3 linked regions of the Homo sapiens genome follow. The protein of the gene in region 1 interacts with the protein of each later gene in a biochemical or structural test. Each region holds a gene or a part of one and is shown on either strand. Other genes may lie near its edges. The genes, in order: RAD18, PCNA and CTH.

Region 1 (3,656 bases):
TTTCCTCTTCTTTTCTTTTGAAATGAGGAGAACCAGATATGGAGTCCTAAGTAGATCAAGCCCTAGGCTTAATTTCACTCTACTAGACTACTACCAAATATGTACTGGTAAGCTGCAGACCAGCATAATTTATTCTCTAGTGGGCAACTATGACAACCCTTCCATTCAAAGAAGAACAGCTGAAGAGTTTTGAATTCATGTATTCCCAGAGGGCTTCATTTAAATCACCTATGAAATTTGTCTTTCCATCCAAGAGAGCCCAAAAAAGATGTGTGGGCAGAGTGGAGGAAGGTACAATAACAACAATGAATTAAAGAGTAGTTTCACAGAAATATCCAAGCCTTGGGAGAGGGGGCATCTCTAATCCCAAGCAAGATCCTAGATAAAATAATTGGCTTGTGGACACTGATAAATTACCACTATTTTAAAGCTTGGCCAGCAATCTTTTTTTTTTTTCCTTTTGTGGATTTTGACTCAAAAAAAATTAATCAAAGCTTGTGTAGAAGTAAAAAGCAATTTTATTTCATTTTTTAAAACAAACTGAAATATGAAATGTTCCCCTTACGAAACCTTTGCTAATTCAAGAGACAACATAAGATTCTATTAGGCAAATAATAAACGTGTTTATCTTCTTTTATATTCTCATGAAGTAGCACTGTGAAACAAGGCAGAGGAGAAGAGAAATAGCTACACACACAAAAGGGAGATATAATTATGCAGAGCTGCACTTCTGGAAATTCTGAAATGCTAGTCTTTAGTTGGAGGGATGTTATTCTCTTACCAACTAACTGTCCCTTAACATTAGAACTGGAGGCAGATGCCAACCTTTTCAGCTTTCTTGGACCTCCTGTTCTTTTCACACTGGTTTTTGCTTTTAACTGGACACTTTAGATGTTTCTTTCTAAAAAGTTCCTTCTTTCATAAAGTCCTTAAGATTTCACATGACAAGGATTCATTTAAGTTTTAGAAATTTCCTTTTTACTATTAAGATGCTAGACTCTTTTGATGTTTGAAAGCCAGCCAATTGCTAAATATTTTGATCATCTTCCATTATGAAGTGAGAAAAATTATAGCAAGTGCAAAGAAAATTGGCACTTGGGCATATTAGTCTATTAGCAAGACCATTTCTCACTTAATGGTGTTTTATGGGTTGGAGTAAGTCTGCTCCCTCTCGCCCCCAAAATACTCTTTAATAGCACAAATTTGGATCAATTTAATTGACCTGCATTCTGCCAAGGCACCCCACTCACACCTTTGTACCTGCAGAACTACAAATGTAGTGTTTATTACTCATATCCAAAAACCTAAACAGAACAAAACAAAATAAAGTGATTTAAAAATGATAAATCATGAAAAATCTAAGAAGCAACAATAAATACCTAGGATTCTGGATCACCAATTCTAGTCAATCCAAGATGATACCAGAACATGACAGACCTGGCTTCCACTACAGCCCTGGGGGTTTTGTGTCATTAAAACACTAAAGACCCAGAGCAAATTTTAGACATGACGGGACTTGTGACAACTGGTGTTTAGTAGAAGAGGCCTACTGAATACTGAGACTTCACAAGTGAAAAAAAAGTGCTCATAAAATAAAAAATCATCATTACTGAAACTTCCCTCCACTGACTTCCTCTTAAAGAATGGCATAAGTGACAGCTATAAGTCATGAAGAAGTGAGCAAACAACATGTATCCCTAGGGAGAGAAACAGAAGACTAGCACTTACATTGCGGGGGCTACTTGAGAAACTGGTTTCTGAGCTGCCTGAATCTATACACTGACAGAAAAGGGAACCAGGTTGAGGGCCACTGAGAACAAAAGCAAAGGTCTGGACTAGTACCACACTCACTGGCCAGTGTGCCTCCCCCAGGCTCAGCAAGGAAGAGAAACCCCCAACTTTCTGCCTGGGGAGAGAAAGAAGGGAAACACGGTCCAATGTTCTAGCTTTTCCAAGAGCTGGCCAGAGGACTGGCTTCTGTCTCACCCCACTAAGCATGAACCCTGCATGTTCTAGGTGACTGGGGACTGCTAAGAATAAAAAAAAGCTGGGTTGCTTGCTACTGATCCACAGGACCCATAGAGCAGACAGAGGCTGATATAGCTCTGCGGCTTATCTTGGGAGGGGAGGCTGGGAGAGAATAGTGGAGTGTGTGACCAACATTTGAACTTTTCAAAGGACTGCCTAAGGGAATGGTTTCTGTCTCACTCAACTTGGGGTGCTTTGGATCAGCATACTTTAGATGCTTGAGGGCAGCTGAAAACAAAAAAAGAGGCTGATGGCTTACAGCAACTCTGGAGAACCTGCAATACCATGGACAGACACATGAGAGAGAAAAACAGCAGCTAATGAAAAAACTGACCAAATCTCTCGGCTTGGAAATTTATAATCACAAGTCCAGGGAAGACACATCCACAGAAAAGGCTTACGAAGCCCCTAGAATCTGCAGTCAAGCTGACTAGTAAAGATCTTTCTCTATATGGTAGTGCCCCCTTATACACAGGCGAGACATTCCATAAAGCGCAGTGGATGCCTAAAACCACAGGTAGTACTGAATCCTATTTATACTATGTTTTTTCCTATACATACTTACCTATGATAAAGTTTAATTTATTAATAAGACACAGTAAGAGATTAGGAACAATAACAATAACATAGAATTAAAACAATATACTATAACAAAAGTTATGTAAATGTGGTCTTTCTCTCAAAATATCTTGTGCTGTACTGTAGATGGTACTGTAGATCTTAGCAACCTCAGCATACAATTTTCTTTCCTTTCCTTGTTAAGAACTTTCACCTTTTCACTTAAAGGAAGCATTTTATGGTTTCTCTTTGTCATATCCGAATTGCCAGCATCATTACTCTTGTGCTTTGGGGCTACTATTAAGTAAAATAAGCGCTACTTGACACAATTACTGTGTTCTGCAACACAGTGACAATTACTGCCATGCTGCAACAGTCAATCTGGTAACCAGGATGGTCACTAAACGATTAACGGTAGATAGCATATGTAACATCAACACACTTGACAAAGGGATGATTCCCATCCTGGGCAGGACGGCACAAGATTTCATCAGTGCTTTACTTAGAACAGAGTGCAATTTAAAACTTATGAATTATTTATTTCCAGAATTTCCCATTTAGTATTTTCAGAATGCAGTTGACCACAGGTAACTGAAATCACAGATAAGGGGGGACTACAGTACAAAGCCAGTCTGTAACAAAGCCACTGTGAGGGAGTGAGGCCCTGTCTCCCAAACAAAACAAAACAAAAACAACGTTATTAGCTATGTCACAAAATAAAGGAAGAAAATCATATGAGCATCTCCATAACTGCAGAAAATACTTGACAAAATTCAACACCCATTCATGATTTAAAAAAAAAAATCCTCTCGCCTAACCAGGGGTAGAGAAGTGCCTCAACTTGGTAGGTTTATGAAAACATATTAAGAATATAAAAAAAACTTACAGCTAACATCATACTTAATGGTAAAAGACTGAATGCTTTCCCCAAAAAATTAAGAGTAAGGACAGGATGTCCCTCCACACCACTTTCAACACTGTAGTTGAGGTACCAGCCTGTGTAACAAAAAGAAACATAAAGGCATATAGATCAGAAAGGAATGAGTAAAACTGTCTTTATCCACAAATGA
Region 2 (2,662 bases), on another chromosome or scaffold:
AGAAGCAGGCTGAGCAACCTTAAGTGACAATTTAGCCAAAGTCACAGGCTGTAGGAATCAAAGGTTAAACAGGAAGGAGACTTCTCACTAAGGCTAGAAAGCAGACTCCATGCAACTTTGAGAGTACCTAGAGAGCCCTTGTTTAACCAAAATAGAAAGAACATGGCAAAACCCCATCTCTACTAAAAATATAAAAATTAGCCGGGTGTGGTGGCGCACACCTGTAATCCCAGCTACTTGGAATGCTGAGATGGGAGAATGACTTGAACCGAGGAGGCGGAGGTTGCAGTGAGCCCAGATCATGCCACTCCCCTCCAGCCTGGGTGACAGAGCAAGATTCCATCTTAAACAAACAAAAAAAACTCGCTAACCTGGGCATAAATTAAAACTTTGTAAATCAAGGACAAAGGTCCTAACCTCATAACCTTGTTAGGATTAAATACGGTAGCATTAAAGAGCTTAGCATATGCTGTGTGTGGCATATTATAAGCTTACAATAAATACTATATATTGCTCTCTTGTCCCTTGAATGGGTAGTCAACATTTAGTTTAAATAAAGGTAAAATTCAGTTGAAAGGTTTTTTTTTAAATTAATAAAGTCTAGGAGCTGATTCTTTATCTGTTTCCTGAATCACATTTCCACTCCTGCCAACCTCGTTTTTTTCTTTTTCTGTTTTTCTTTGTTTTTGAGACAGGGTCTTGCTCTGTCCACCCAGGCTGGAGTGCGGTGGTGCAGTCGGTTCACTACAGCCTCAAACTCCAGGGCTTAAGTGATCCTCCTGCCTCAGTTTCCCAAGTAGCCGGGACTACAGGTGTGTGCCAACACACCTAGCCTGGTTTCCCCTAATTTCATTTTCCCCCTTCCATTACAATCTATTTGTTGAAGAAATTAGATCATTTATTAAGTTTTCCAGAGTTTGGATTTTGCTGATTGCATTCCTGTGTATACATAAATTCCTCTACCCTGTGTGTCCTACAGACTGGTAGCTATAGCCCTGGAGCCTTGATATTCAGGGTGTTTTGTTTCGGGGGTGAGAGAGCAAGAATATAGGTGGTGGTGTGTGCCTCTAGTAGGAGGCACAGGGTGTCTGGATGTGTTTGCAATGTTAGCAGCTATAATAGTCATTGTCTAGATCCATTAAGTCATTAATTAGAGTTTGCAGAGCTGAAATTAATACGTTTTATTCACTTATTGGCTGCTTATTAGAAAAACTTCCATAAAGAAAAGCTTTCCCATATTATATAATTTGGTTATCTAAATTATAGCTATAGGAAAGACAAGCTAGATAATCGAGTCTTTTGCTTTATGTATCAGTCTTCAAAATTTTCATAGCTCCCTCCAAAGTGACCAATACAAGTGTTTGTGGGTTTTTATAAATATATAATGAGCTAATAGATTGCAACTTTCTTGATGTTTTTCAATGATGAATCTTTTGTTTTGTAGGTTACCATAGAGATGAATGAACCAGTTCAACTAACTTTTGCACTGAGGTACCTGAACTTCTTTACAAAAGCCACTCCACTCTCTTCAACGGTGACACTCAGTATGTCTGCAGATGTACCCCTTGGTAAGATAATAAATTTGAACCTTGTTTTGTAGGTAGTCATATGTGATACATACTCCTCAGTAATTAACCATCTTCCTGTCTTTCAGTTGTAGAGTATAAAATTGCGGATATGGGACACTTAAAATACTACTTGGCTCCCAAGATCGAGGATGAAGAAGGATCTTAGGCATTCTTAAAATTCAAGAAAATAAAACTAAGCTCTTTGAGAACTGCTTCTAAGATGCCAGCATATACTGAAGTCTTTTCTGTCACCAAATTTGTACCTCTAAGTACATATGTAGATATTGTTTTCTGTAAATAACCTATTTTTTTCTCTATTCTCTGCAATTTGTTTAAAGAATAAAGTCCAAAGTCAGATCTGGTCTAGTTAACCTAGAAGTATTTTTGTCTCTTAGAAATACTTGTGATTTTTATAATACAAAAGGGTCTTGACTCTAAATGCAGTTTTAAGAATTGTTTTTGAATTTAAATAAAGTTACTTGAATTTCAAACATCACAGGGCAGTGTCTTCATTTTGACCAGGACTGTTGGAAGTATCCTACTGAATTCCCAGCTACAGCTACCCTTTCGTTTAAATGGTTTTTCAGTTTAGAGCAGCCTGATGGAGATCAAAAGGATTTCAAATACAGTAGGTTACTAGATATTTTAGGGGATTCACTTGTCAAACTTGTTATTCCAATTTGAGCTCAAGGAACAAGTGAGAGAGTAGTACAAATCCTGTGTATTTCATTTTACTTGGCAAAAATTAATACTCTTCAGAAGCTTAATGTACCGAAAGTCGTGTGGGCTTTATAAGATGTTAATGGAGTGTTTCTTTTTAGCCTGGGGAATCTTACAAGAGTCTTGGATGTTTCAGTAGAGCTGTAATGGGGCCCAAGGAGTATGGTTGTACAAAATTTCTCTAGTATAAGTACACTTTGCAACTTCACTCAAAGGATGAAGATGTCTTAAATTCCACGGATGTTGGATCCAACCAAGAAAGTGAAAAAGCCCTGAAGTTGTGAAGAAAGACTTAAAAACATTCCCACTAATAGCTACAAGTTCACTGTGTGCTGTGTATTAAGAATTTTTTGCCAGGCACGGTGCCTCACACC
Region 3 (3,756 bases), on another chromosome or scaffold:
TACTAAAAAAAATAAAAAATGAGTCAGGCGCAGTGGCAGGCGCCTGTAATCCCAGCTACTTAGGAGGCTGAGGCCGGAGAATCGCTTGAACCCGGGAGGCGGAGGTTGCAGTGAGCCGAGATCGCACCACTGCACTCCAGCCTGGGTGACAGAGTAAGACTCTCTCTGAAAAATAAAAAAAAAAAAAAAAGAAAGAAAGAAAGAGAGGCTGTGTACATATTTTGATTCTAAAATACAGTAAAGAGTATTCTAAACCAGTTGTAGAAATGGCCTTAGAACTGTATCTCACAAAACAAGGGACTGTCTGTAAGGATTTTCCTCAACTTATATAACACACTGAAGTGGTTTCCAAAGCATAATCAAGGCTTTGGACTTACAGACTTTAACTAATTCTTACAAATCTCAGCAACTTTTAAATTCTCTAAGATCCATCAAGTATGCCACCAAAAGGGGGAAAAAAGCTATGTGATTAACAAAGAGGGCTCCTTCGTAGGCTTTACAGATCATTCATGTATGACTCTGTGTCAGTTCCTTTTCTATAAAAAGTACATAATACCTGTCCTGCCTTCTGACCTGGTTGTTGTGAGGATCAAATGGAAATAGTGTAAATGTGAACATCATGAAAAAACAAATTACCATCGAGTAATTATTATGTACTATACAGCCTTAAATACATCTCAACAACTTATGTGGTAGATACTATTATTATCCCCATTTATACAGGATCAGTCAGAGGTTTTGATAGGTTAACTAACTTGCCCAAGGTCCCCCAGCTCAGAAGAAGTGGTGTCAGAATGCAAACCTAGCCTTTGACTATAAGATTTGTGTTCTCTTTTTCTGTTGTTGTTTGAGTTGGAGTTTCACTCTTGTCACCCAGGCTGGAGCACAATGGTGAGATCTTGGCTCACTGCAACCTCTGCCTCCTGGGTTCAAGCGATTCTCCTGCCTCAGCTTCCCGAGTAGCTGAGATTACCCGCCACCATGCCCAGCTAATTTATTTATTTTTAGTAGAGATGGGGTTTCACCATGTTGGCCAGGCTGGGCTCGAACTCCTGTCCTCAGGTGATCCACCCGCCTCAGCCTCCCAAAGTGCTGGGATTACAGGCGTAAGCCACTGCACCCGGTCATGAGTTGTGTTCTTAATCACTAAGCCACAGTGCTTAAATGACGCAATAGGCTAAATTGTTACTAGCATTATTAGAGATAGCATAGTGTAGCTGAGTGCCTAGGAGTTGGTTCCTAAAGCAACCTCAAGTTTCTAAAGTTTGAATTCCATCTCCAATACTTACTAGTCTAAGGCTAGTTACTTAACTCCCTAAATCTCAGCTTCTTTATTGGGAAAAAATGAGAATTCGGTTCAGACTAGGGTTGTTGTTAGGATTAGATGAGACAATACATGTAATACACATGATATATACGAGCACGTATTTGGCATATAGTAGGTACTCAATAACTATTCATACAGCTACTGGAAACAATCTTAATTCTAGTCAAGTTATCAGACCCTTAATATTTTTTAAGCTGACTCCGTACTACATCTTTAAAATTTATGCTGCTAAAGGTAACTCAAAAAAGTTATGACCTTCGATTTTTAATTGCAAATTTGTCAAAATCACCTGAATTTCAGGCCAAATCTAAATGGCAAGCTGGACAAACGGCTCCTTCCAGTCCTGCTTATCAAAAGAAATACGATCACTGGACCATCCGATACAAAGCTGTGCTGCAAGAATTACAGTGTAGAAACATCTTTCGGTTGCCTTCCTAATTTATAAGTCATATTATAAATTACTTACATGCCTTTCAAATTCATAAGCCGTATCTCTTTTACCGCCCAACTGTGGACAGCCCCAGACAGACCCAGCTCACCGAGTGCTGGCCAGGCGCCCCTTGCTTGAACGTGGTGGACAGTGAGATGGGGGGCACTACAGCCCTGGAGGTCCATTGCTCTGGATCCTGGCCCACATGGATCGCCTGCGTGGCGAAATGTTGGAAGTGTGGCAGGAAACCTTGTGAGGAGGCGTCTTTTTCCTGCATGCTGAACCGCGAAAGAAGAAGAGAGGAAAAGAACACCGAAGATATAACCAGTCGAAGCCGGGTGTCCGGGGTTGGGAGAGACAGAAGGATCAGGCGAGAAGGAGCTAAAGCACGCAGGTAGAGCCGACGGCGAGCGCACTAAAGCGGCACACAGCGATTGTTGGGGTGGATTTTATTAGCGGGTCTGCAGTCTCACGATCACAGTGGGGCGGGACCAGCGCGGCCCATTGAGCGCAGGCCCGACGCGTCTCCCGCTCCTTATTGGCTGACAGCAGAGGCGTTGCCTGAAACGTCACCGCGACCGCCCCACCCAGTGCACAAAGCGGAGTGAAGCTGGAGTCCCTGGGTCCAAGTGGTGTTAGTCCCTGCGGGCGAAATTCCTGAGTACCCGTCCTGAGGAGGCTGCCATGCTGGCTCCTGAGAGCCACCCGGGCGTCTCTGTGACCTCAGGCCGGAGGTTCGCCCGAGACGTGGCGGAAAGCTGGCTTAGTGTTGAAACCGGGTAACTGTAAACAGACCACATAAATAGCCTTCTTTTACTGTGGTAGTTACCTCTGACCACCATCCTTTGCCCTGAGGGCGGTGCTAAAAGACGTAAGCCACAACGTGGAGGGTGGTTAAGAAAACAGTTGCCCAAGCCGCCCAGTTTGCAGCTTGGATTCTCATCAGTCACAGCTTGCGTTTTAGGTACACTGAACTCTGTAATGACCCAGTGCTTACGATGACGAAACGATGACTAGAAGTGAAGGTTAAATTGTTCGTAAGACATAACGAAGCTACTGTAGTGAGGACGTCTATGCACAACTCTGGCAGCTTCCTAAAAGTTAGTCAATCTTGAGCTTTTTCAAGCATCATTATCTTCTTTTAAAGTACAGAGAGAAACTCCCCCTAATGAGAAAGATAATGTGGCTTTGAAATACTTACTGGAGCCTAACATCCTTACACAAAATGCTTTTGCTTTTACACAACAGCAACATCCCTGCAGGAAAAAGGATTGTTTACCACTCACCTGCGCCCAGAGCCCTACTCTCAGAAGAATCACTGCTTTAAAACAAAAATCTCCCTGTTCCCTAAGCAATACAGACTTGACCTACTTACTATTGTGGCTGTTTTCTAGCACCAGGAAATTTGGGGATATTTCTGTTGTTGCAAAATATTCGCTAAAGATCTAAAACTTTATTAAACAAATTAAGAACAAGGAGAATAAGGAATAAACAGCTCTTAAAATTTACAGTTTGAAAGAAAGATATGAAGAGAAAGAATGAGGCAATTTGCTTTTCAAATTAGCTTTAGGGACATTTAACCCATTAAGCACTAGAGGAGTGGTGCTTGAGGGCCTACAAGCTTTTAGAATCCTACCAAACTTTGTATGGCTGGGGGAAAAAATGGATAGACTTCAAAACACTAATGTATATTAATACATATTTAATTAATATTTTTCTTTTAAAAATATAACATCAACTGCAACTCACCTCAATATTTATGTATAACTATAGGTGGGTATTTTTGTGTAATATGATATGGCATTTAGGGGCCAAAAGGGTCTAAAACAGTTCCAATTAGTTTTACCTCCTAATATTTGCTGACAAACCCTGAGTTGCATAAATACAGACATTTTATTTAGTGTACTGTAATAAAGAATCATTCAGAAGACAGCACTAGGCTGGGTGCATTGGCTAACGCCTATTAATCCCAGCACTTTGGGAGGCCGAGGTGGGCGAA

What was found.
Region 2: of the proteins of RAD18 (region 1) and PCNA, one has a biochemical effect on the other in vitro, tested with the Homo sapiens proteins (21 studies listed by BioGRID, with this or other methods).
Region 3: the proteins of RAD18 (region 1) and CTH form a complex in vitro, tested with the Homo sapiens proteins (one study listed by BioGRID).

Annotation. Positions count from the first base shown.
Region 1 is NC_000003.12:8,953,372-8,957,027, forward strand, and holds part of RAD18 (E3 ubiquitin-protein ligase RAD18), read right to left. Parts: intron 1-3,656. UniProt on the Homo sapiens protein: E3 ubiquitin-protein ligase involved in postreplication repair of UV-damaged DNA. Postreplication repair functions in gap-filling of a daughter strand on replication of damaged DNA.
Region 2 is NC_000020.11:5,114,355-5,117,016, reverse strand, and holds the end of PCNA (proliferating cell nuclear antigen), read left to right. Parts: intron 1-1,444; coding exon 1,445-1,568; intron 1,569-1,654; coding exon 1,655-1,734; 3' UTR 1,735-2,064; downstream 2,065-2,662. UniProt on the Homo sapiens protein: Auxiliary protein of DNA polymerase delta and epsilon, is involved in the control of eukaryotic DNA replication by increasing the polymerase's processibility during elongation of the leading strand.
Region 3 is NC_000001.11:70,409,694-70,413,449, reverse strand, and holds the start of CTH (cystathionine gamma-lyase), read right to left. Parts: upstream 2,183-3,756; 5' UTR 2,035-2,182; coding exon 1,867-2,034; intron 1-1,866. UniProt on the Homo sapiens protein: Catalyzes the last step in the trans-sulfuration pathway from L-methionine to L-cysteine in a pyridoxal-5'-phosphate (PLP)-dependent manner, which consists on cleaving the L,L-cystathionine molecule into L-cysteine, ammonia and 2-oxobutanoate.